7 linked regions of the Homo sapiens genome follow. The protein of the gene in region 3 purifies or fractionates together with the protein of the main gene of each other region. This does not show direct contact. Each region holds a gene or a part of one and is shown on either strand. Other genes may lie near its edges.

Evidence for each region.
Region 1: the proteins of ILDR2 (region 3) and HFE purify together in Homo sapiens (co-immunoprecipitation; one large-scale study listed by IntAct). This does not show direct contact.
Region 2: the proteins of ILDR2 (region 3) and ZNF224 purify together in Homo sapiens (affinity purification with mass spectrometry, with the first as the bait; one study listed by BioGRID). This does not show direct contact.
Region 4: the proteins of ILDR2 (region 3) and EVA1C purify together in Homo sapiens (co-immunoprecipitation; one large-scale study listed by IntAct). This does not show direct contact.
Region 5: the proteins of ILDR2 (region 3) and ADGRG5 purify together in Homo sapiens (co-immunoprecipitation; one large-scale study listed by IntAct). This does not show direct contact.
Region 6: the proteins of ILDR2 (region 3) and HSD17B12 purify together in Homo sapiens (affinity purification with mass spectrometry, with the first as the bait; one study listed by BioGRID). This does not show direct contact.
Region 7: the proteins of ILDR2 (region 3) and KIRREL1 purify together in Homo sapiens (co-immunoprecipitation; one large-scale study listed by IntAct). This does not show direct contact.

The regions. Positions count from the first base shown.
Region 1 is NC_000006.12:26,085,968-26,090,228, reverse strand, and holds the start of HFE (hereditary hemochromatosis protein isoform 1 precursor), read right to left. Parts: upstream 2,801-4,261; 5' UTR 2,789-2,800; coding exon 2,713-2,788; exon of another isoform or gene 2,067-2,712; intron 1-2,066. UniProt on the Homo sapiens protein: Binds to transferrin receptor (TFR) and reduces its affinity for iron-loaded transferrin.
Region 2 is NC_000019.10:44,100,861-44,104,360, reverse strand, and holds part of ZNF224 (zinc finger protein 224), read right to left. Parts: coding exon 3,434-3,500; intron 3,229-3,433; coding exon 3,136-3,228; intron 1-3,135.
Region 3 is NC_000001.11:166,972,741-166,976,723, forward strand, and holds the start of ILDR2 (immunoglobulin-like domain-containing receptor 2 isoform 1 precursor), read right to left. Parts: upstream 2,801-3,983; 5' UTR 2,529-2,800; coding exon 2,483-2,528; exon of another isoform or gene 509-2,482; coding exon of another isoform or gene 442-508; exon of another isoform or gene 253-441; coding exon of another isoform or gene 162-252; intron 8-161; exon of another isoform or gene 1-7. UniProt on the Homo sapiens protein: May be involved in ER stress pathways with effects on lipid homeostasis and insulin secretion. With ILDR1 and LSR, involved in the maintain of the epithelial barrier function through the recruitment of MARVELD2/tricellulin to tricellular tight junctions.
Region 4 is NC_000021.9:32,454,206-32,457,705, reverse strand, and holds part of EVA1C (protein eva-1 homolog C isoform 1 precursor), read right to left. Parts: exon of another isoform or gene 117-3,500; intron 110-116; coding exon 1-109. UniProt on the Homo sapiens protein: Binds heparin.
Region 5 is NC_000016.10:57,549,143-57,552,642, reverse strand, and holds part of ADGRG5 (adhesion G-protein coupled receptor G5 isoform 1 precursor), read right to left. Parts: intron 1-3,500. UniProt on the Homo sapiens protein: Orphan adhesion G-protein coupled receptor (aGPCR). Ligand binding causes a conformation change that triggers signaling via guanine nucleotide-binding proteins (G proteins) and modulates the activity of downstream effectors, such as adenylate cyclase.
Region 6 is NC_000011.10:43,809,738-43,813,237, reverse strand, and holds part of HSD17B12 (very-long-chain 3-oxoacyl-CoA reductase), read right to left. Parts: intron 1-3,500. UniProt on the Homo sapiens protein: Catalyzes the second of the four reactions of the long-chain fatty acids elongation cycle. This endoplasmic reticulum-bound enzymatic process, allows the addition of two carbons to the chain of long- and very long-chain fatty acids/VLCFAs per cycle.
Region 7 is NC_000001.11:158,000,145-158,003,644, reverse strand, and holds part of KIRREL1 (kin of IRRE-like protein 1 isoform 1 precursor), read right to left. Parts: intron 1-3,500. UniProt on the Homo sapiens protein: Required for proper function of the glomerular filtration barrier. It is involved in the maintenance of a stable podocyte architecture with interdigitating foot processes connected by specialized cell-cell junctions, known as the slit diaphragm.

The sequences.
Region 1 (4,261 bases), on a different chromosome or scaffold from region 3:
TCAAATGATCTACCTGCCTCAGCCACCAAAGTGCTGGGATTACAGAAGTGAGCCACCGTGCCCAGCCTTGGTCCTGAATTCTTACACTGAACTGCCTATGTGGCCTCACCACTTGGAAGCCTGACTGGAATCTCAAACTTAACATGTCCAAATGCAGATCCTTGATTTACCCCAAACTGCTCTTTCCTCTGCCTTCACCATCTCAGAAATGGCATTGCCAATTACCCCACTGCTCAGGCCAATAAAATTAAAATAAAGAACAAAGTCAACTTTAACTCTTCTCTTTTTCAGGGGGTCAGGGGAGACAGGGTCTTGCTCTGTCACCTAGGCTGAAGTACAGTGGCACAGTCATGGCTCACTGCAGCCTCAACTTCCTGGGCTCAAGCAATACCCTCCACCTCAGCCTCCCGAGTAGCTAGGATCACAGGTGCATGCCACCACACCCAGCTAATTTTTGTATTTTTTGTAGAGAAGGGGTTTTGCTGTGTTGCCCAGGCTGGTCTTGAACTCCTGAGCTCAGGAATCTGCTCTCCTTGGCCTCCTCCTTGGCATGAGCTACTACACCCAGCCAATTCTTCTCTTTCTCTCACACAACATAGAATCCTTCAGCAACTTCCTTCAGAATATATTCAGGAGACAATGGTTTGTCACTCCCTTTTCTGTTCCCACCCAGCCCACTCCACTACCTCTTGCCTGGACTGTGTAACAGCTTCCTGGCTGGGCTCCCTGCTTTTACTGTTGCTCCCTTCATTCTGCTTTCCACATAGCAGCCAGAGCAATCTTTTAAAAGCCTGTGACAGATCACTGTTACTCCTTGGCTAGAATTCACACCACAGCCTACAGGCGCCTGCACAACCTTGTTTGTGGCTCCTCTTCTGAGCCCATTACCTACTTCTTGGCCTCTACTCCCCAGCACTACTTGTTTATTTTTTTCAACCCGAGCTTCTTAACCAGGAGTTTGTCTACTAGGTGACATGTGGCAAAGTTTAGAGACATTTTTGGTTGTCAAGACTGGGGGAGTGCTCCTAGCACCTAGTGAGTAGGGAGGACAGGATACTGCTAGACATCCTACATGCAGATGGTAGTCCCCCTTCCCACCCCCACGCCGCCCCCCCCCCCCACACACACACACATGAGTAGTGCTGAGAAAACCCGCTTTTTAATCCAACTTGCCAGGCCCACTCAGTTTGCCTGGGAAATACTGCTCCCAGTCAATATCATTCTTATTTCCTTCATGTCTCTGCTCAAGTGTCAGCCCCAGAGTGACTTGCCCTGACTTCTCTGCTTCTCACAACACCCATGATTTCCTGATGTTGTATATCTTTCTGCTCATTTGCTTATTGTCATCTCTCCCACTAGAATGCAAAATATCAAAGGGTAAAGACTTGTTTCCCTGCTCTCTCCCTTGGGGCTTGAACAGTGCAACACATGGCTGGGACTCATTTACACTTGTAAACAATGAATATTTCTGCTCAACATGAAATTTTATTATTCAACCTCTAATGCAGTGTGATGTTTAAGAATCATAGCTATGAAGTGGAGACATGAGCTCTGCCACCAAAGCCCAGTGTACCATTGAATAAATTTGCCAGGAAGCAGGCCGTGCCATGCCTCATTCTTGTCATGTGTAAAATGTGGATACACGTAGTACCAAAACTCAAAGTGCTGTGCTGAGGCCGGCGTGTGACCCACAGAACACTGTGCTACACTACAGGGCAAAATCACTGTCAACTAAGATTAGAAGCAGCTGTAGTACTTGAAATAACATCAGAAAACCAGATTATTTATGTTCTTTGTAACCTGAAAAGAGTTATATAATCTGAATTCCAGTTAACTTCTAGTAAAATAAACGTATTATTAGCTCCTACCTCCCTATGCCTAGTGAAAATCAAATAAGATCAGATATGAATGTAACTTAGAAGTGAGTGCATTGCTTACATGTTCATTATCAGTACTTTGTAGAGAGGCCTCTTAATTACACAGCACATTGCAAATCAATAAAGCCTAGCCGAAAAGAGAATTGTTCAGTTCAAACGTTCAAAACTAACATATACTTAATTTTCCAGGCAAAAGAACAATTGCCAAGAGTGGGGAAAGGCCCGAGGTAGGCCTCTCTCAGGAGCCTCCCACCCTAGAGACCTCCACCCCAGGTCTCACCAAAAGTGGGTGGAATGGTGAAGAATTCAGATCCCCAACGCCACTCTTTCGCGCCCCCACCGCCCAACGCATTCGTTCTGAGGTGGAAACCCCGTGCGGATCCTGCTGTGGGTTTGCTCAGCCTTCTCGGCAAGCACTCAGGGAAGAACTTCCTGTTTGGAGATGACTGGGGAAAAAACTGCACAGCTGACATTGGAAATAAACCCGAGTTCCAGGTTCAAGGAGCCCCAGGCTTAGCTCAGCTCAAGTGAGGAACTACGAGATTTATTTAAAAGCATTCTAGTTGGGGGAAGGGAGTGGGCGGTTCCAAAAGTCACTCCGCAGAGCCGGGACAGCCGGGGGAGGGGGCAGGTCCTGGGGCGAGGGACCCCTATCTGCAGTTCAGTGGTAGGCACTCCCTCACGGGGTCTGGACGCAGAAAGTAGGGAGAGGGGCTTGCGGATAGGGTTGAGCAGGTCCTCCAAAGTTAGCAAACTCCCAAGCGCAAAGAAAAAGCTAGTTTCGATTTTTCCACCCCCGCCGCGCCCCTAGTTCGCCCGCAGCCCTCGGACTCACGCAGCAAGCGCCCCTGCAGGACCGCGGTCTGCAAAAGCATCAGGAGGAGAAGCGCCGGCCTGGCTCGCGGGCCCATTTCCCCAGCTCTGGCCGCACGTCCCCGTTAAATCTCCGCTTCTTTTGGGGGGCGGGGAAACGGGGATGGCTCCAGAAGTCACCCTACAGCTATTGCCTAGGCTCAGGAGATGCCCAGTAAAACTTCCTGGTGAAAAGCAACAGGTCTTTCAGAACTTTAGTTCTCTCTCTCCTACAGCAGAAGGTACCTGCTTGTGAAACACTAGGTGATCCAGTGTCCCCCTTGGTTTTTAAATCCTGAAGGGGTGTTGTTGATTGGGGAAAGTAGCTTCGCAATGTTCTGATCTGAACTTTAGATATTTAAATATTTATGATTTTCAAAATTCAATCATACATTTAAAAATTTTATCTCAACCTTAGACCAACTTATGTCTTATTTGACTTAGAAATATAAAGCTTTTTCATTTTGTTTTTTGATTCAAATTAATTAAGTCATAACATTAACCAATTAGATCCTACTGAAACACCTTCCACAGCCTTCATAATTGAATTATCTGACAAGTGTTTCACAAACTTTACAGTATTGGGATTATCTGGAGAATGATTAAACATATTGAGGCCTGCTCCTAACCCCAGACACACTGATTTAATGGGTAATTGTTAGGTAGTTAGACATTAGCAGTTGGGAGGGGATGACAGAAGAGAGCGGAAAGGCTGTCACTAAGACAGCCACTGGCCCACCTAAATTCAGGCCCAAGACTACCCTAATGCCACCCTAAGGGATGGAGTTTATGATAAAGTCTGTGGCCAAAATATCCTGGAGAAAGAGAAAGGAGGGTACAGGTGGAAATTCCCTAAGGTGGCACATGCCCAACAACACAAAAGCCTGTCTTCAAGTTCACCCCAAGTTCATCATGCCATCATTATAATAGAATTTACATACAGTTTTGCCCCCCCATCCCTGGGAGGCTTTTCTTAACAAATTATAGGTAAGACCATGCACAGTTTAATTTTAGATTGTATAGCTATACACTTCAATCAAATAACATCATCCTGTCACTCAGATACAGCCCAAACCTCAACTCCTCCCCACAAACCCCATAAAAGCACCTTGAGCTCTGTAAAGAAGTGCTGAGTTCACTTCGCAGAAATAAGCCCGCTGTCCCTCAGAGTGTATTATTGTGCTTCAATAAACTTTGCTTTAAGCTTGCATTTTGGTGTTAGTTTGTAGTTCTTTGCTCACTATCACAAGAACTGAGATTGCTGGTTCAGAGCTCCGGCTATAATAATCTCCTCGGTTAAAGGATCCATCCCAATGCATAATTCCCAGTAACAGTATGGGATGCCACCTGGGCAATGGGATTTTAAAAGCTTTCCTTCTCCCTCAACGAAGTTTGGGAATTATTGCCTTAGACATTTCAAACAATATTAATAAATTTAATACACCTGATTTGCTCCAAACCTTTACATATCTAGCAAATTCAACAGGCATTATTTTTGTAAGCATGTATGCAAATTTTGGCAATTCAAGAAA
Region 2 (3,500 bases), on a different chromosome or scaffold from region 3:
CTGTAAACTCTTGCTCTAAACTGTGCAGCCAGTTAAACTCTTCACAATAATATCAAAGGCCTAGGAGTGTTTATATCTACATATTCATAATATTCCTACACAAGAATTTGGCATAACATGTATCTTTAATTTTATTTTTCTGTAGATGTGAACAATAATTTGGTTAACTGAGATAGGTAAGAAACAGACAACCAGTTTTGATGGGAATCTGAAAGGTTGGACCTGACAGGGGTAAAGAAAGGGTGATGCTCCTGATGAGACAATGAAAGGTGGTGAGAACACTTGGGATAAAAAGAATGCCTGAGGGGTCATGCCCTGGGTTGGTTCCATGTGGGGATATTAGACTCTCATTAAAATAAAAAAGACCAGAGGCTAGGCACAGTGGCTCATGTCTGTAATCTCAGCACTTTGAGAGGCCAAGGCGGGCAGATTGCTTGAGCCCAGGAGTTGGTGACCAGCCTGATTAACATGGTGAAACCCTGTCTCTACTAAAAATACAAAAATTAGCCAGGTGTGGTGGTGCACACCTATAATCCCAGCTACGTGGGAGGCCGAGGTATGAGAATCATGTGAACTCAGGAGGCAGAGGTTGCTGTGAGCTGAGATCATGCCAATGCTCTCCAGCATGGGTGACAGAGTGAGACCCTGTCTCAAAAAAATAAAAAAAGAAGAAAAAAGAGGGCAGAAAATATATGATATAGATAAATACTCCTTTATACTTATTTCCAAATGGAAGAATATAGACAAAAAGTGAGCTATAAAATAAATTTAAAACCTTCTAATGAGCATTTAGAAAAAAAGAACTAGAAAAGAAATGATCACATCTTCATGACAAGCAAGAAAGGTATCATTTCATGAAATGCCTACTGAAGTAACCCATAGACATCTACATGCATGAAAAATGTTTGTCCTGGTTATGGTGAAAGATGTGTTTCTTACTATGACTCACAATCATAAAAATGTTGACAACTTTGGTCAGGATATTACCAAGTCCTAAATTAAGTCAGTCAAATGGAAAGTTAACTTCCAAGGTTGAATCTTGGAAAAACAGTAATAGGTAAATATGTACCCAATGGTACACGCTGGAATATGGATATATTTAACACACTGTTACTTAAGAGGTTTTTGGGGAGAAGAGAGAGTCTCTTTCAGGATGTCAGTATTTTGAGAGGGCAGTTTCCTGATTCCTTCCAAGTTATAAAGTTGAAAATAGAGCACTAGGTCTCTAAAAAATAAAGGAAAAATTATGTTGTAAAATCTGTATTCTTTTATGTTTTTAACAATTAAATCTGTATACAATGAAGGTGCAGAAATATACATATTTTTGAACAAAGATGACCAGAAATATAGGCAATGTTTAGCTGCATGAATTGTGTTGCTCTCTTCCTCATTCTTCCCCACCCAGGAGAAGAAGAAACCTGGGGTCAGTGACGTGCATGCAGACTTTGGAAAGGCAAATGGGCTGCAGATGGGTAAATCTCTCAAAGGAAAGCTAGCTGGGAAGCTGGTTATTATCTGACACATCACAAAATGGAGAATTTTTTCCCCTTGTAGAAGAGCTGTCTCACTAGTAGACATCAGAATGTTCATTCAAAAATGATTTCTTTCCAGAAATGAATATGCTTCCTATGAAAAGCTCCAGGATAAGTCATATGGAAGGCATATAGCTCAGTATGGTAATAAATAGAATGCTTAGAAGTTTCCATGGGATGTGGGTCCACCGTAAACACACAAGGCAATCAAATAACGGAATCTAAGAACATTGTAATTAAATACATGGCCATTGGAAGACAAAAAACATGTTCTGCAATATCTCTCTTTCACCGTAGTTTGTGTTTCACTTATTAGTTCTCTCCATAATTTCAGGAGACAGTGAAGTCACCCCATTCATTAGCTCATATATCAGGTTAACAAAAATTTGGAAACCTGCCATGTACCAGGACCATTCTAGGCACTGAAAATACAGCCACGAAGAGTTAAAATTCCTTAGACATTATAGTCCAGCATGTAGAAGTGACAGATAAACAGAAGTATGTGAGACTTGGTACAAGAGAGCACAAGAAGAATCAAAATAGAATGGAATTATAAAGAGAGTGGTTTAGGATGGCTTCTCTCATGACTTTAAAACTGAAAAGAAACTTGAATAACTGAAGGAGATGCCAGAAGGTTTTGAGGTGACAGAGTATCCCAGTGACTGAGATGAGCAAGTAAGGGCTGAGACAGAAGCTTCTGTAGAGACAGAATAATGGTTCCTAAAAGATGTCCACATCCAGTCCCCAGGACTTATGATCACGTTGTTATACAGCAGGGGAACAGAGGTTGTAGATGCAATTAAGGTTGCTAGTCAGTTAACCAGAGAACAGAAAGATCATCCTGGATTATCCAGGAGTGATCAAAACAATTACAAGGGACCCAAAAGGTGAAAGAGGAAGGCATAAGAAGAGTGGCAGAGGGAGCATGACTATGGGGATGCAAGTTGCTGCCTTTGAAGATGGAGGAAGGGAAGCAAGAGCCAAGGAGTATGGACAGTGCCTAGACACTGATAAACTAAAGTAAAGGCTTCTCCCCAAGAGCATCCAGAAAACATGAAGCCCTACAGACAACTTGATAATTGCCCAGTGAGATGTATCAGACTTCATCCCTAAAGAACACAAAAATAATAAATGTTTGTCTCTCAGTCTGCTCAGTCTGTGGTCACTGGGTACCAGCAAAAGGCAACACAGTGCCCTTGGGAGGACAGAGAAACAGCAGGGAGAATAAAGTGGCTGGTAAAGACAGAGCAAGAAGGAGAGGACAGGAGATGTAGTTAGAGAGGTGGCAGGGAGGGGATGAAGAGCAGATCACAGGGTCTCTAAAAGTCAATTAAAGAGGTTGTAACTTTAATAAAAATAAGCCAAACAGGCTTTTGAGCTGAGGAATGGCAATCTGACTTACATTTCCTAAGGATCACTTTGGCTGCTATGAGAACAGATGTCAGGATGTGAAGGCGGGTGGCAGGGCCACCAGGTGTAAGATGGTTGTCAATAATCCAAGAAAGAGGTTTGGCCATTTAGGCCAGGGCAATGGATTTGAGCATGGACAGAAGTGAAACAGGTGGAAGAGACATACAGGGATTCACAGTTGCTTGATTCTTACCTGAATTCCCTTCCCTTTGGATTGCTGTCTTCATCATCCAAATCTTTTCTTCCCTTAGGAAGTGGAAAGTATCCCTGTGGAATGCTTGATGTCCTGCAAACAGGCAAACTTACATGCTTAATCCCAACACATTCTAGGTAATATCAAGGTAAAGTTTACCAGAAATTTAGGTTCTTACTGCACACTCAAACTTGAACCATAGGTTCAAGTTACTAATTAAGACTTGAAACTTTGTACCCTAGGATACAAAGCCACCTCTGGGGCCTGACGTTCTGTTACAGAGGGTGCCTGTCCTCACCCACTGAGAGCAGGTTCCTGAAGTTCTCCAGCATCACATCTCGATACAGCTTCCTCTGAGCAAGGTC
Region 3 (3,983 bases):
GAGAGAGATGGTGGGGAGAGAAAGGGAGGGAGAGGAAGAATGAATGTGGTTTTTTTCCTGGCTCTCTGTCTCATTTTTAATCTGTTCTTCCCTGTCTCCCTTCCTTTCTACCACCCCCTCAAAAGAGAATTCATTGATTGGGCTGGACTAAAATTTCTCACCTTTCGTCTCATGGTTCTCTGTGAAGAATGAGTCTGAATTCATCTCCTCCTTGTCTGCTTCTGTCTCCTCCCTCCCCTCCCCAGCCGCCATTGTTTGCTCCTCTACTTTGCTGAGGCTGAGAGGCAGCTTGTCTGTCCACACCTCTGACAGCAGTGATGGGATGAGGAGAAAGCAGGAGCAGGGAGCAGAGGATGATCAATGGGATCCCAGGAGTCAGTCTCACTTTTGGAGCAAAGAATCCCCAGCCATCTGACAGCTGAGCTGGTCCTGATAACTAACCTGTTGCCTGATTCCAAGCAGAACAGCCTCTCCAGGTGCAGGTGGCAGAAGGCACAGACAAAGCCATCACCTCCCTCAAAACAAAAATAAAACAAAAAGCCCTCCAGCAAAAAGCCCAGAGAGGCAGCTTAGGAGAGGGCAAATGAGACTGGTCTGGAGTTTGAGAGAACTGGAATCTAGTCCCTAATCAATCATGAACGTGCTATGTGCATATTGCCTCTCTAGGACTCCATCTCTATAAACTGAGAGGGCTGAACTACAGTTCCTGTAGTACCCTCCAGTGATATGATTCCATTTCATAAAAAGCTGTGAGCCATCTAAAGAGAGCTCTATGTTTCCCTTCTTCTCTCACTCCCTGCAAACCCCCAGAGTACTTCTTTTAGGCAGACCCCAGCGTGTCTGTAAAGAGCACCTCTGACTCAGGGACCCCTCCCCCCCCCCCCCGATGCCTGGCTGACTTCAGTGCTGTTGTGATACAGGCTCAAGGACTAAGTGCCCTGAGAATATTGATAACCGAGAGTAGAGGCAGATTAAGGATGTGAAGAATCAGTGAGGGTGGGAGTGGAAGGCACTGGGAGGCCAGGGGAGCGGGGTGGCATGGATCAGCCAAACCCTGAAATTAGAGATGATTCATATCTGAATAATGTGGGAGGGATGAACTCAAAGCAGCCAAAAGAAGAGGCTAACTCTGCTGAGGATGCCTCCCCCAGCCTAAACCCAGCAGTGGGGCAACGGCAATGTTAGGGGCATTTCATTTGAAATGGGAAAAATATTTAGGCAATGAAGAATCTTATTCTGAAGCTAAGGGAAATGGGGTATTTGCCTTTTCTTGCTAAATGTATTTTACCCCCTTTACATGACTTGTTTTAGCTATTTTAAGCTTGTTCCCCTTTGCCTAGTGCCTTGATTTTGTCCAGATCTTCTGGCTGGTGATGCTAGAGGTGACAAAACTTCTCATGTGGTACTATTGTCCCTTTTCTCTCCTGCCTTCCACCCCCATCCTGTCCTCACCTTTCTGATCCCTTTTTCCATTTCTTCCATCATTCTGCCTCCACCTTGATTTGAATGGTTGCCTCTGACCCAGTCCAAGCTATCCAGACATTCCTCACCCCCATCCTACTCCCTTCAGCAGGGCTGCTTTGTGAATCTCTCAGGGCTGGCCACCCCAAGGCCCTGTATCCCTATGGGAATCGGAATCCTCATGTGGGGAAATAGGTTAAGAACAAGAGCATCTACTGACCCCAGCAGAATGGGGAGAAAGTTCACCAAAAAGGAGGGGAGGGCACAGAGGACCCAGCTAGACCAGTGACTTTGATGCTGGGGAGAAGCCCAATGCCTCTAAATCTCTCTGCAAATTATCTTTTAGGGAGCGGAGAGTGCACCTATTAGAAAGGCTCTTCTGCTTTCTAATTATCATTTGGGACCACTCCCCAAATGATACCAAGTAAGAGAGAGCCAGGCTCTAAACTCCACAACCAGTGAAGGTTCCATCCCCATCTTCTTCCCAACCTCCAGTTCCTTGCACCCTCCAGAGAGCCACAGAGAGAATGCCCTGGGTCCCCCTCCTTCTCTAGGGAAGAAATTAAGGAGACAGTCCTCTAGCCTCCACCTCCAGAAAACCAGTTCATTTAATTAATCAGCTCCCTCTGAGCTTCCTTTATTCCAGCCAGGCTTTTCACAAGACTCACAGCATTACAAACTCAGGATAAGACCGAAGGAGAACCGTTTTATGGAGGGGAAATGCATTCGAAAGAACAACCTCAGCGCCAATGAGTCAAACACCTGCATCTAGATGCGTCTCACTTGTCATTGGGCTTCTCCCCCGCCGCCCCCATCATTCTCTCTCTCTCTCTCTCACACACACACACACAAACACATACACAAACACACACGTTGCCCCCTCCCCCACTTTCCACCAGACCGCTAAGCAGCTTTAAACATGGTCAGTAAGGAGGAAAATGGGGGGGCGGGGGGCGCGGTGAGAACAGAACCACTACAGGAATATACAAAGTTATTCGTTTCTGTTGAAAAGGACTCTTACCTGTTAGCCAGAAGAGAGAAATCCACCTCAGCAAGACCCTATCCATCTTCCCCAACTTCCCAGCCGAATTACGGAGTGAGGAAAGTGGGAAATGGCTGGAACAGAAGGATCGCTGTCACCCCGCGGCAGCGGGCGGCGGCGGAGCGGCGGGCACCGGGCGTCCCTGGGCGCAGCGCCCGCCGGGCCGGCCGCGCAGGCGGGGCCGGGGGCTGGATCGCGCCGCCGGCTGAGCGCGCGCTGCCGCGGGCTTCCGGGGTCCGCGCAGCGCTCGGCGGCGCATCCGCATGCCCAGGCAGCGCGGCACGGGGCGAGCGTCTCCCCGCCGCAGAGCCCGCCGCGCGGGGGAGCTCGGCCGCCGCACCGCCTCCCGCGCCTCCGCCCCGCCGCCCGCTGCCGCGACTGCCAAAGTTTCTCGGTCACGTGCTGGCCCCCGGCGGCCCAAAGGTCAGCGTGGAGTGATTGAGGCCACGCGGAGAGAGGGGGTCTCTGGGTGGCAGGCAGCGAGAGGCGCGGGGGAGGCCGCCCCGCGGGCCGCGCCGAGCGGGGAGCGACCATCGCGGCTTCTCCCAGGGACGCCCGCGCTCGGGAACCCGGGCGAGAACGCTGGCTGGGGACTCGAGCAGGGGAGCCTGTGTCTGCGGGCAGCCACAGCCAACCTGAACGGGGAGAGAGTGACAGCGGCGAGGGTGGGGGACGGCGGGGACTTGGCGTAACTTCTTACAGGACTTAACTAGCAAGTCCTCTAGGCTAGAATGTTCGCTTCTGCGGTACCCCCGCCCCTCCGTCTGGTTTCCTTTTTGACAGTGCAAGGAACCAGGCAAGAGGCTCCGCAGAATTGAAAAAGGTAGGCGGGAATCTCGCGTCATTACTTTTTCCTGTTAAAATATGAGGTAGAATAAGGGCATCCGGCCCTTTAACAGAAAATATGTAAAACCAGAATGAGATAAATGATTATAACGGCTTAAATCCATCCAACACTTTATAGATTCCAGCACGCATTCACATGGATTATTCCTATTTGTCAGACGGATTTGTCTTGTGTCTCAAAATGTATGTGTTGAGAGAGAACTGAGAAATGTATGATTTGCTTAAGAAATATATTTATGAAGCCTCTACTAGGTGCTAAGAACTAAGGTTACAAAGTGGAATGAGATAGACTTCCTGCCCTTAGGAGCCTCATCTTGGGTCGAGGAAAGGGAGGAAGGTCAGACCATTAAAGACATGATACTTATTCCTAGTAAAACGGGGCAAGTGCAATAATGGAGACATAGAGAAAGTGCCTTGGGAACATAGAGGAAGGACTAAGTTAGTCGTGGGTGGGGAGGGGGCACCACGATAAAGGAGGGGTAACATCTGAGCTGGCATTTGCAGAAAGCACAAGATTTGAGCCATTCAAGGATCCCTGGTGGAAAGGGGGCAGGCGAGGGCATTCTGGGCAGAGGAAAGAGACATAGCAGAAAGGTCTCAAGTAGCATCTGAAAACAGAGTGGTGCCAGGCTGG
Region 4 (3,500 bases), on a different chromosome or scaffold from region 3:
AGGAGACCAGGAGGTATTTACTGCTTCCTGGACAAAGGTCAGGTCCAAAAACACGGCTATTGACCAGGAGGTGGCAGGCCCGCTGGTTCTGGCATTCGTCCAGCACCTTCTAGAAGGAGAGGGTAGAAAAGGGACAGGCTTGAAAACTGCTCACAGTGACTGCCAGACCCGAACCTGGGCTGCTCTGGGCTCTGCAAAGGGAAGGACGCCTCCCCACCTGGCCAAGCTGTGTCTAAGGCCAAAGAGCATAGACGTGGGTGATTGGGTTAGCTCCCTGTCTCCCTGCTCTTTCTCCTGAAAAGAAACCTGATCCAATAGTGCCAGGCTCCTGGGAAAACTAACCTCTGATCCACCACTACTGGTGCGGCGGCTGCTACTTTCAGCAAAGGCACTGAGTGCCGAGGCTCCAGGGGGTGCAAGCGAGGTCAGAGGACTTTCAGATATTGGGGTGCAGGGTACTTCAGGGTCCCCTTCGAGCGGGGTCCCCTAGCTTTAAGCTGAGAGAGCTGTGACCATCAGGATTCACAGTCCTGGCCTTTCATCCTTAAATAGCCCCACACAGGACACAGGAGAGCTGTGCATCGGGGAGCTCTTGGGGACCCAAACCCTTTCCAGCTTACGAACCATCCACAGGCCAAAAAATAAAAATTACAAAGCTGATTCCCACCCTCATCAAACTCAAGAGGATGGGACCCACTTCTCCCTCGGGGAGCAGTTTTCTTAGTGGAACACTCAGACTTTCTGTTGAGCATTGGCAGTAAAGGCTTTCCTGCAAATCTCAATCTCTCTCTCTCTCCTGATTTTTTCCAGACAGCTCCTTCGTTTTTAAGGCATCTGCTCTGTGGAAGCTCACAGAACACCCTCCTCCAGGTCCTGGGAAGGCTCAGCTTTTTGCTGCTGTTCTCTAGGTCCTCGTTCCCAAATGGAACAAGTCCTGCTTGTGATAAACACAGAGGTCCTGAACTTGGGTCTGGTTAAAACAAAAACAAAAAGGACATCAAGTACAGTTAAAAAAAAAGTTCCCAAGAATCTGCTTATTACTTTAGGTCTGAATTTAGTGCAGACACGTGAGCCTCTCTGAGTCACCATGTTCTCATAGTAGCTCGTGGAATAGCTCCGTGAAGAATGCTGGCCCCGCCAGGTATCCCCCATTCTCTCAGGGGCCCAGCAGATGTGTCTCAATCAGGAAAAAATACCCAAGAAACCCCTCAGACCCCAGAAGGTGCAGCTTTCAGATGACTGCATGTGGCATGGCCAAAGGTCATGGTGAAATGACTTGGCCCACAGATGTCACCGGAGGGCTCCACTGTTACAACCACAGAGCAGACCCCAGGGCAGGGCTATTTCCAAACTATGTCATGAGCTGGAAAATGCAGAGAGGGGGACTTGCTGCTGACAGTCAAGGGATGGATCAGCTGTGGTCTCCTGTGTGGATGTCTCCCCATGTTAAGCAACCTCCCTCTGAGGAAGCACCTTGCCTGTGCTCCGAGTGCAGCTTAAAAGACACAAAAGAAGGCTGGGCGCGGTGGCTCACACCTGTAATCCCAGCATTTTGGGGGGCCGAAGCGGGCAGATCACCTGAGGTCAGGAGTTCAAGACCAGCCTGACTAACACAGTGAAACCCTGTCTCTACTAAAAGTACAAAAATTAGCAGGCGTGGTGGTGGGCACCTGTGATCCCAGCTACTCGGGAGGCTGAGGCAGGAGAATTGCTTGAACCTGGGAGGCAGAGGTTGTGGTAAGCCGAGATTGCGCCATTGCACTCCAGCCTGGGCAACAAGAGTGAAACTCCGTCTCAAACAAACAAACAAAAAAGACACAAAAGTAAAGGACTTCTTGACCTCTGGTTGAAAGAGTAGCGCATGGGGATGTTTCTGGCAAACAAACCCTCCCAACAACGTCAGAACTGTGTTCACAAATGCTAACCTGTCGGCCTGGTTATAGAACATCCTCTTCCCTCAGGGGTATCTGGCAGAGGCAGGTACCCGTGGAATGGTGCAGGTGGTGCCCATGCTCTAGTGTATGCCAAGAGTTCCTACTTTTACAAAGTAGCCACTTTAAAAAAATGTTGGTACTGGCCAACATTCCTTTCATGCACCCAGGAGGGCAGCAGGTAGCCTGGGATCCAAGGATGGATGGCCAGGGCAGGTGGCTGAGAAATGGGGGTGGGTCAAGAGGGATGTAGCTCCTGGGGTGGCGCCCAACAGAGAGAGTTAGGGGTAGGGTGGGTGCTATGGCTGGAATGTTTATCCCCCCCAAAACTCACATTGAAATGTAATTGCTGCTTTAACAGTAACAGTGTTAACAGGTGGAGTCTTTAAGAGGTGATTAGACCATCAGGTCTTCACCCTTATGAATGGATTAATACTGTTTTTGTTTGTTTGTTTGTTTTTTGTTTTTTTTCAGGAGTAGGTTGTTAGAGTGGCACTAGGCTTGTTATAAAAGGCAAGTTGGCCCTCTCTCCTTCTCTTGCCCCTTCCATTCTTCTGCCACATGAGTACCAGCGTTCTCCAACCCCCTAGAGGATGTAGTGTTCAAGGAGCCATCCTGGAAGTAGAGACACCAAACCTATGGCGCCTTGCTCTTGGACTTCCTGACCTTCAGAACAGTGAGAAATCAATCTCAGGTCCTTATGAATTACCCAGGCTCAGGTACACTGTTATAGCAGCACAAAAAGGACTAAGACAGTGGAGCACACAGGGAAAGCAACTTCTTGTCTCCTGAAGAAACATGTTGTCTCTCCTCAAGGTATAGAAACCATGTCATGGGGAGTCATTCAGACACATTCATTTTGGCTACTCAATTGGTGTGTTTCACCAATCACCTAAATACCCAGATACTACCATGCTTGGAGTGGAAGCAAGGGATGGTGTGAGAAATAGAAAAATTCTTACATCATCACATTAGTTTGCGTCTCCTGTTTGGGCCTTAGGGAGAGCTACACAGCATTAAAGCTACTCTTATTTCTCCTTAGTTCTAGCAAATGTATCTTTATCCATATTTCCTACGGTCGACAAAATCAAACAGACTTCCAACTTTCCACCTGCTCTAAACTCCCTGCTTTAAATGTATTCATATGGAACTTGGGAGGCATAAAAAAAAAAATCCAAGGCCAAGTGACTCAGTAATCCTGGTCAACTAGTTATATATGTTAGGGGCCAGGGATGGTGAAGTAGAAGTTGCTCAGATGATTGAAAGCCATGCACAGTCTAAAACCATCATTGAAATATTAGTTTGACCTTCTCCTATACCAAATCTTTCCCTAAATATGCCAACCACAAAAAGAATGACTTAAACCACACCTCTCCCAATTCCTGGTACTATGTAGTAGAAGGAAGGAGTCAGTAAAGGCTGCCTAAAATAGCTCCAAGCAAGAATGACATGATTATCTACAACTGAAGAAGCAAATCATTAAAAAGCACAAGGCAGTTACTGATATTACTGATATTTCCTTCCTTGAATACATTTTCTTTTTTTTGAGATGGAGTCTCGCTCTGTTGC
Region 5 (3,500 bases), on a different chromosome or scaffold from region 3:
AGTGATCTGGATAGAAGATCAAACCAGCCCCCGGCCAACGTTCCCTTAAGCCAAAGCCTAGTTCAGAGCAAGGCCCTAACTCTTCAATTCTATGAAGGCCAAGGTGGGTGAGGAAGCTGAAAAAACGTGGAAGCTAGCAGAGGTTGGTTCATGAGGTTTCAGGAAAAAAGCCATCTCCATGACATAGCAGTACAAAGTGAAACAGCAAGTGCTGATGGAGAAGCAAGTTATCCACAAGAACTAGCTAACATCATGCATGAGGGTGGCCACATTAAACAACAGAATTTCAGTGTAGATGAAAGAGCCTCATATTGGAAGCGGATGCCATCTAAGAGTTTCATAGCCAGAGAGAAGAAATCAATGCCTGGTTTCAAAGCTTCAAAGGACAGGCTAACTCCCTTGTTAGCGGGTAATGCAGCTGGTGACTTTCAATGGAAGCCAATACTCATTTAACATCCTGAAAATCCTAGGTCTCTTAAGAGTTATGCTAAATCTATTCTGCCTGTGCTCTACAAATGGAATAACAAAGCCTGGATGATAGCAATCTATTTATAGCATAGTTTCCTGAATATTTTAAACCCACTGTTAAGACCTACTACTCAAAAAAAAAAAAAGATTTATTTCAAAATATTTCTGCTCATCGACAATGTACCTAGTCACCCAAGAGCTCTGATGGAGATGCACAAGGAGATCAATGTTGTTCTCGTGCTGCTAACACAACATCCATTCTGCAGCCCATGGATCAAGGAGTCATTTCGACCTTCAAGTCTTATTATTTAGGAAACAAATTTCATAAGGCTATAGCTGTCATAGATAGTGATTTCTCTGATGGATCAGGGCAAAGTAAATTGAAAATCTGGAAAAGATTCACCCTTCTAGATGCTGCAAGAACATGTGATTGTGATTCATGGGAAGAAGTCAAAATATCAACATTAACAGGAGTTTGGAAGAGGTTGATTCCATGCTTCATGGACGACTTTGAGGGGTTCAAAACTTCAGTGGGGAAAGTAATTACAGATGTGATTAGAATAGCAAGAGAACTAGAATTAGTAGTGGATCCTGAAGATGTGACTGAATTGCTGCAGTCTCATGATCAAACTTGAATGGATGGGGAGTCGCTTCTCATAGATGAACAATGAGTGGTTTTTTGAAATGGAATCTACTCCTGGTGAAGATATGGTGAACACTGTGGAAATGACAACAAAAGATTTAGAATATTAAATAAATGTAGTGGATAAAGCCCCTGCAGGGTTTGAGAGGACGGACTCCAATTTTGAATGAAGCTCTACCGTGAGTAAAATACTATCAAACAGCATCACATGCTACAGAAAAACATCTTATGAAAGGAAGAGTCAACTGATGTGGCAAACTTCACTGCTGTCTTAAGAAACAGCCAGCCACCCCAACCTTCAACCACCACCACCTTGATCAGCATCAAGGCAAGACTTTCCACCAGCAAAAAAGCGTGTGATTTGTTGAAGGCTCAGATAGATTGCTAGTACTTTTTAGCAATAAAGTGTCCTTTAACTAAGGTATGTACATTTTTAGACATAATGCTTTTGTACACTAAATAGACTACAGTATAATGTAAACATAACTTTTTTCATGTGTGAGACAGTCTCGCTCTGTTGCCCAGGCTGGAATGCAGTGGTGCGATCTCAGCTCACTGCAACCTCCGCCTCCACCTCACAGGTTCAAGTGATTCTCCTGCCTCAGCCTCCCAAGTAGATGGGATTACAGGCACACACCACCATGCTCGGCTAATTTTTGTATTTTTAGTAGAGATGGGGTTTCACCATGTTGGCCAGGATGGTCTCGATCTCCTGACCTCATGATCCGCCCGCCTCGGCCTCCCAAAGTGCTGGGATTACAGACATGAGCCACCGTGCCTGGCCGTAAGCATCACTTTTATATGCACTGGGAAACCAAACAATTTGTGTGACTCACTTTATTACCATATTTGCTTTACTGTGGTGGTCTAAAACCAAACCCACAATATCTCCAAGATATGCCTGTAAAACTCCTTGGAAAAAACAAAAAAGAAAATCCTTCTGACTTAGGTTATGCAAAGATTTCTTAGAAACAACACCAAAAACGTGATCCATGGCAACAACAACAACAAAAAACTGATAAGTTGAATTTCATCAAAATTAAAACTTCTGCTTTTTGAAAGTCATGGTTAGCAAAACGAGAAGATAAGCCACAGACTGGGAGAAAATATTTACAAACACATATCTGATGTTTTTAAAAAATTGTATCTGGACTACATAAAGAACTCTTACACAACTAATAAGAGGACAAACAACCCAATAAATATAGGAAAAGATTTGAACAATCACTATACCAATGAAGATGTATATAGATGGGCCGGGCGCGGTGGCTCATGCCTGTAATCCCAGCACTTTGGGAGGCCGAGGCGGGTGGGTCACCCAAGGTCAGGAGTTTGAAACCAGCCTGGCCAACATGGTGAAACCCCTGTCTCTACTAAAAATACAACAATTAGCCAGGTGTGGTAGCATGTGCCTGTAATCCTAGCTGCTCAAGAGTCTAAGGCAGGAGAATTGCTTCAACCCAGGAGGAGGAGGCTGCAGTGAGCTGAGATCATGCCACTGCATTTCAGCCTGGGTGACAGAGCTGGAACTACATGTTAAAAAAAAAAATGTATAGATGCAAATAAGCACATGAGAAACACTCAATATCATTAGTCATTAGAGAAATGCATATAAAAACCACAATCAGATATCACTACACACCTTCTAGAATGACTAGGATTAAAATGGTAATACAAAGTATTATGAGGATATAGAACAGCTGGAAGCCTCATTCATTTCTGGAGGGAATGTAACATGGAAGTGGAATCTAGAAAAGTCAAAACTATTGGATCAGAGAACAAATCAGTAGTTGCCAGGGAGTAGGGAAAAGATATTAACTACAAAAGGGCCTGAGACAACTTTTCAGGGGACAGCAATGTTCTATATTTTGATTGTAATATACATGTATACATGACTGTACACATCTGTCAAAATGCAAAAACTCCTCTCCAAAAGGGTGAATTTTATTGTATGTATACCTCTATAGACAAGACTTTAGAAATCCAATCAAAAAACATATTAAGAGGATGAAGAAGAGGAAATAGGGGAGGGAGGGCAAGAGAACTGATGATCCTCCTCTTAGAGAAAGGAAGTCAACAAAAACTTGCAAGGCTTCAAGAGGGAGAGCCACAAAACTCAAAATATGTGTTTGATGGTAGTGGCAGAGGAAAGTAGTTAAGAACATGAGTTCTCATTTTTCCACCATTGGATCTGCAAAGATCTGAAATATGATAGCACCCAGTGAGTCTGTAGGGACAGGCACATTCCTGCACTCTCTGTCTAAGATCTGAGCCTCATCTGCAAGGGGACGGCTTAGCAACACATTCGAACTTTACGTTCTGAATATCCTTTAAGCCAGGAAACTCATTCTTATGAATTTATCCTATGGAAAGAATAGGGCAAGCCAGG
Region 6 (3,500 bases), on a different chromosome or scaffold from region 3:
TGTACTATAAGTACAAAGTTAAGCAAAGGAAGTCCCTGAATAACTAAGCAAGCAGAGAAGTGTTATTCTGGTTATGACTGTATTAACAATAGAGAGTTGCCAGGCGTGGTGGCTCACGCCTGTAATCCCAGCACTTTGGGAGACTGAGGCAGGCGGATCACGAGGTCAGGAGATCTAGATCATCCTGGCTAACACGGTGAAACCCCATCTCTACTAAAAATACAAAAAATTAGCCAGGCACGATGGCACGTGCCTGTAGTCCCAGCTACTCGGGAGGCTGAGGTAGGAGAATTGCTTGAACCCAGGAGGCGAAGGTTGCAGTGAGCCGAGATCACGCCACTGCACTCCAGCATGGGTGACAGAGGGAGACTCTGTCTCAAACAAAAACAAAAACAAACAATAGAGAGTCTTCAGCTGTGTCTCTGATAATTGAGCAAAGGAAAGCTATCAAAGCTATTTATTCACACAATGAAAATGTGAACATCTATTTAACATAGCTCTATAAGAAAACATATTCAACCAAAAAGCATCTGCACAGCAAAGGAAATAATCAACAGAGTGAAGAGACTACCTGTTGAATGGAAGAATATATTTGCAAACTATCCATCTGACAAGAGACTAATATCTAGAATATACAAAGAACTCAAACAACTGAATAGTTTAAAAAACAAGAAAACTTATTAAAAAGTGGGCTGAGGATATGGATAGATATTTCTCAAAAGAAGACATACAAATGGCCAGCAGATAAATGAAAAAATGCTCATCACCAATCATCACAGAAATCTGAATCAAAATGACAATGAGATATCATCTTACCCCAGTTAGAGTAGCTGTTATTAAAAAGCCAAAAAATAACAGATGCTGGCAAGGACGCAGAGAAAGCAGAATTCTTATCCACTGTTGGTGGGAATGTAAATTAGTATAGCCACTGTGGAAAACAGTATGGAGGTTTCTCAAAATATTAAAAATAGAACTATCACATGATCCAACAATCCCACTACTAGTATTTATCCAAAGGAAAATAAATCAGTATATCAAATAGATACCTGCACCCCCGTGTTTATTGCAGCATCATTCACAATAGCAAAGATAAGGAATTGACTTAAGTGTCCATCAACAAATAAATAGATAAAGAAAAATTTAGTATATATACACAATAAAATACTATTTGGCCATGAAAAGAATAAAATCCTGTAATTTATAGCAACATGGATGGAACTGGAGGTCACTGTGTTAAGTGAGATAAGCCAGGCACAGAAAGACAAATATTGCATGTTCTCATTCATATGTAGGAGCTAAAAAAGTTGGTCTCATGGAGGTAGAGAGTAGAATAATAGATACCAGAAGGTGGGGCAGGTGTGTGTGGGTGGGTGAGGGATGAAGAGAGGATGGTTAGTGGGTACATATAGTTAGATAGAAGGAATAAGTTCTAATGTTCAATAGCAGAGTAGGGTGACTATAGTTAACAACAATGTATTGTATATTTCAAAATGGCTAGAAGAGAGGTCTTTTAATGTTCCCAACACATAGAAATGATACTCAAAGTGACAGATACTTCAGCCACCCTGACATGATCATTACACATCCTATGCATGTAATAAAATATCACATGTATCCTATAAATATGTAGAAATATTATGTATCTGTTAAAAAAAAGAGAGAAAACCTGTTCAACACTGAGAACTTTAGTCCAAAAAAGTAAATAGTATCACGGAGAAGGGCTATGTTTTCATAAATAAAAGTACACACAATAAAACAATGTTAAAGCTGGAATAAGGCTGTTAAGAGCACTGAGTCCAATTTTATGAGGTGAAGTACACACCAAGGTCACAATGGCGATTTGTCCTATTCTAGGGATTAGGACTCCTACATTCCCTCCTGTACTATTAGTTCCACCTTTTGCTTGTGGAATGAATGATACCCATAATCTCCCCACCATAAGTAATCACTTCAGAATGCTCTTATTTAGGAGTATAGAGAAAAAACTGTTGCTCTCAAATAGTTATTTCCATAAAATGCAGAATAGTGCGAATCTTTTGGAAAAGCAAACCCACGGCAATTTTATTTTGAGACGTCAGGTGGCAGCAATAACCTAACAGCAGGCAGAAAGCTTTCAGGGAATTGCAAAAGGAAGAGAAAGAACAGGCTTTGAGTAGGAGTGAAGGATGGAAATACTCCCATTATAATATAATCTCATTAAGAATGGGTGCACGCAATGCCATCTTTACATATTACAGGATTCATTATAGGATTCGCCAAACCAAACAATGGCACATGTTGCTCCAACATTATTCAGATAGTTGAAGATCCCTTCTAAATGGTCGCATCTTAAATTAGCATTAAACATGTTTATTAGTGAGTTTTCTTGAATTCTTGAAGTGAGGCACTAGAGACAGATTTAAACATTTTTTTCAGTGAAAAACCTTTTTATTGTGTAACAACACATGATGTCTCTCAGGAAACAACAGATATCTATGTCATCATGGAATTCCCACCACCATCCCAGTCACTGTAGGGTGCTGGACAGTAACAAAATCTTTCCCATTGGTTTCTGACTAGAGGTCTAAGACTGGGAAGCGCTCAATAAAAGAGATGAGGCAGGCAGAGAACAGAGGTGAAAACAGACCAAGAATAATGCCAAAGGAAGTGGAAAGAAAAGGTGGTGGAGGGCAGAGGAGCCATCCTCTTAAGAGTTGATCCTTGCAGAGAAGAACTGACATAGGCCATGCTTAGCTACGCTCTCCTCGGCCCCCATCCAGAACCTCAGAAAACACTAATATCATTATGTGTTGCATTTTAAAGACACAGAAAATCCACGGAATAATTCTGAATTTTATATATATATATATATATATATATATATATATATAATTTCTAAATTATACTGCTTTAAAATCATTTCCAAATTTTATGCTCTTAAAAAAAGAATATTTACAAGATTTCTGTTTCTTCTAAGTTCGTTTGCTGCTGATCTCACTGAACTTAGAATCCTCTCTCAAAGCCAGCTGCTATAGAGATATAATGATGTCATCAGAAAATTAGATTTTTGGTATCTGGGTTAGGCGTGAGAGAGGAGCAAACAACAATAAATTACTAGAAATTAAAAATCCATTTGAACAAACAATTCTAACAGATACGGGTAACCCCCTACAGATCACCTTCAACCTGTTTCTTTTTCCAGATTAATCAGAGATATAGGAAATTAAGGTGGTTTAAAAATATGTTGCCTAATGGCCGGGCTTCCCGACATACATCAAATAATGCAAAGTAACCCCTCCTGTTTCCTTCTCATTGTATCAAAGGAGAAAAAGTTTATATTTCACTAACATTTGTGGTTATAAATGCTAATCCAGTTCCAGCACTTAGAGTTAATAAAAAGACATCTTATTTATTTATTTGCTTATTTATTTACTTATTTTGAGACAGAATTTCGCTCATGTTGCCCAGGCTGGAGTGCAATGGCTCGATCTCAGCTCACTGCAATCCGTCTCCTGGGTTCA
Region 7 (3,500 bases), 9.0 Mb from region 3:
TAGCTGCCCCGGGGGTGAATGCTGGAGGGTTCTGGCGCTGGCAGCACAGCCAGCCACGAGTGTGTGTGTGTGGGAGGGTCAGGCATCAAGGGGAGTGTGGGACCTCTGGGAGTCCCCCATCCCATCCCACAGTGTCAAGCTGGTAGATTTCCAGGGAGAGTGGGGAGTGGTGGGGAGGACTGAGACAAAGAGGAGCAAGTCAATTCCTCAAGGTTTTGGATTAAAACCCAGGAGTCCCACTGTCTCGATGAAATGTCCTTCTGGATGACTCAGGAGTAGAGATGAAAACTTCAACTTCTCTCAGAGGCTTCATTCTGCCAGCCTGCCTAGCCTTGGGTTTCTGCTCCTTTGAAATGCCTTCTCTCTCTACTATGTTCTCTCCTCCTCTGCCCTGCCTGCCCATCTCTGCTCCTTTCCTTTTAATAACCTCCCAGTTAAGCGAATCGAATGGGAAGAAGCAGTTAAAAGCAACTCATGGCTTGACAATGCTGGGTAATGGAGCGAGCAAGGCCCCGGGCTGTTCCTGGGAGAATTCAGGAAGGAGGAGGAAAAATAATAATAATAAAAAAAACTCAGCTAAGCTGATTACAAGGACAAAGTTAATTTAGAAATCAGCTCTGTTGGGTGGGAGTGGGGGGTGGAGAGTACGGAACTGGACACAAGAGGTTGGGAGATTCGATTTGGGGGAAGTGTGCTTTATATAAACTGCCTTTGTTCCTGGAAATCATAATCCTTGGGAGGGACCAGGGTTCACTCCTTCGGATTCCTCGGCTCCTTCCATCCGGAGCAGGGGGTACAATCGGGGATTGTCCAGAGCTTGGATATCTCGTGGCACCACATTCCAGAGGCCCCGCAGCCCCTGAGCCTCACATCTGTGGCCCCCTCCCTGCCCCTGCTCCCTGCTCCACTCCCCCTCACTGGACGGTTAGGCTTCAGCATTTTTCACATACCTCTCTCACAACCTTTATCTTATAAAATTGTCAATATGTGTTTATACATCCATCTCCCACACCATACTGAGAGTGCCTCAAGAACAGGGACTAAATCTTACCTACCTTTTCATTCCCAGGCCTAGGCCCAGCACAGCCATTTAAAAAAACAATGCTCATAAGTTGAACACATGCTCTCACCCCCCCTGGTGGGACCCTCTTCAAAGGACTCCATTTGAAAAACCAGAGCTCACTTCCTAGCAGAGGTTTTAAGAATCTTTAGGCTCAGCTCCTAAATGCACATGTATCTAAGGCCACAGACCAGTGGAAATGGCCCAGAATTGACCCTGAAGGGACTAAACCCGGATGGGCCCTCTGATGGAACCAGATGGCTCCCCTTGACTCTGGGCAGTGTAGACATGGCCCAAGCTTGGGGGGGACAGGTAACAAAGAGCCTGGCCTCAGAGTCAGGCTGCAGAGCTCTCCTCGCAGTTACTGCCGTTGAACTCTGCCTCCAGGCATCTTTATCTTATACTGAAGTATTCTCAGAGGAAAAGATTTCCTCATCCTTCCGAAGTCTCTCTGGCTCAAGTCACAGATCTGAGACTTCCCAAGGCAGAGCTGGTATTTCTCTAAGGTTTTCTGCTCACTTCTGCCTGGCCAAACCTTGGTTATCTGTTTTTTTCATGTTTTTAATTGGAGGGGTTATAAATTTCCATAGTGTCTCCAGTAGAAGAGGTGTTTAAGAGGAGGGGAGGCTTTGGTGAGAAGTGAGATGGGGATTATACCTGTTTTTAACACACCCTTTGTCTGCTTAAAAAACAGAAATCCATTGCTCCCCAGTTCTTACAGGGGAGTCTTTGCAAGAAGTCTTTGGCCTGGCTTTTCCAGGCCTCCTCTGGTCTGTCCCCATTCTGCCGTTCTGGATCATCTCATCTGTTTCTCCCAAACCAACCCAAATCCTCAGTCCAACTGGCCTCAGTGTCCGCCACACATCCCACCAGCAACATCTTGGTTCCGGAAGTCTGGCCCATCTGGTAAGGCTCTCCCTCTTCCTGCCACATCCATGTCCTGTCCATCCTTGGGCCCCACTTCCTCCACGGAGCCCTTCCTGGTCACTTCAGCCCACAGCAAAGTCCCTTCTCTGGACTCTCTAGCTCTGACCTGCACACTGCTATCACGGCACCAATGACTCCACACCTTGCACCACCAGCAGTCTTCATGTGTGTATATCTTAGTTTCTTAAAAGGGAAGGACCACCTGCTGTCATATTTTTTGGTCCACATAATGCCTACCAGTATGTTTTGCATATAATAATGTACAGTTGATGATTAAAAAAATAATTCTCCTGATTTGGTGAAAGAGAGAACTGAGGCCTACTGAGATTAAGTAATTTGCACTGAAATCACAAAGTGAGACCTTCAAGGGCAGAGATCTAGTACATTATTCACTTTGCAACACTGGAGCCCAGCACACAGTAAGCACACAATTCTCTTCCGCTGAATGAAGGAACAAAAGTCCTTCCTCTTTCCACACATCTTTCAGTGAAGATATATTCCTCAGACTGCCTCAGAAGGAAAGAAGGGGCAAAAAGAAAAGGCATCCAATGGCCTAGTCGATTCTGAAGCGGACCTAGGATGGGACAGCTTCCTGGGATAAACCTGCTGGGCACAGAGTACACCTCCAGACACTCGGGTTCCTGTTATCCCTTCCCTGCCTCAAAACCCAAGACCCACAGCATTCTGGGTGAGTCTCCCATCACCTTCCAGAGCCAGATTGCAAAAGGAATGAAGCGGCAGCATTCTCTCCTGGGAAACTAATGGAATTTGCTAGAGAGTTCTGGAGATTTCTACCCCTGGATTTAAGACCCTTAATCCTGAGGAGGTTGACTGGCTGCAAGGCTCATTTATTTCAATACGATGCCTATTTTGTTAAATGGGCTCAAGGAGGGCAGAGAGGGATGAGGACTGCAGCCCCTGGAGACAACAGAGGTTAATAAAAGTGGCTGAATAAATTAAATATGGAGGGAAGGACAAGCTGGGAGCTTGGAGTCAGCTGATAGAGGGAGAGTAAGTGGGATAGAAAGAAAAAACAAAAGTGTCATACTTCAGTGATGTCTGCGAGCTACAGCAGCTTTTATCCTGGATGCTCCAAGAACTTAATTAGGTTCGCATTGTCTGACAATCAGACGTAGGAAGGTATAAGAGCTGGAGCTACAGAATGGAGAGGGACCAGTGTTACAGAATGAGGAACCCCAAGCTTCTTTCTCAACTTTCATAACTTCACAGTTTGTGCATCTATCAGAGAGGATGCAGGGCATGCAAGGCAAGGCAAAAAGTAGTGCCTTTAAAGACACAGGAGGGCTGCTATGGCTGGAAGAAAAATGACTCACAAAAATGTACTACTGTTGCACACTAGTGCTCTGGTGACTGAAAAGGCTTGGGTAAAGATGAGAGATATCTGTCCAGATGTGTATGGGGATGGGGATAAGAAGTGGGTGCATGTATAGCTGCACTATGAAGGCATGTGTGAATACATATGCATATGCATATGCATGCAGTGAGATTGCAT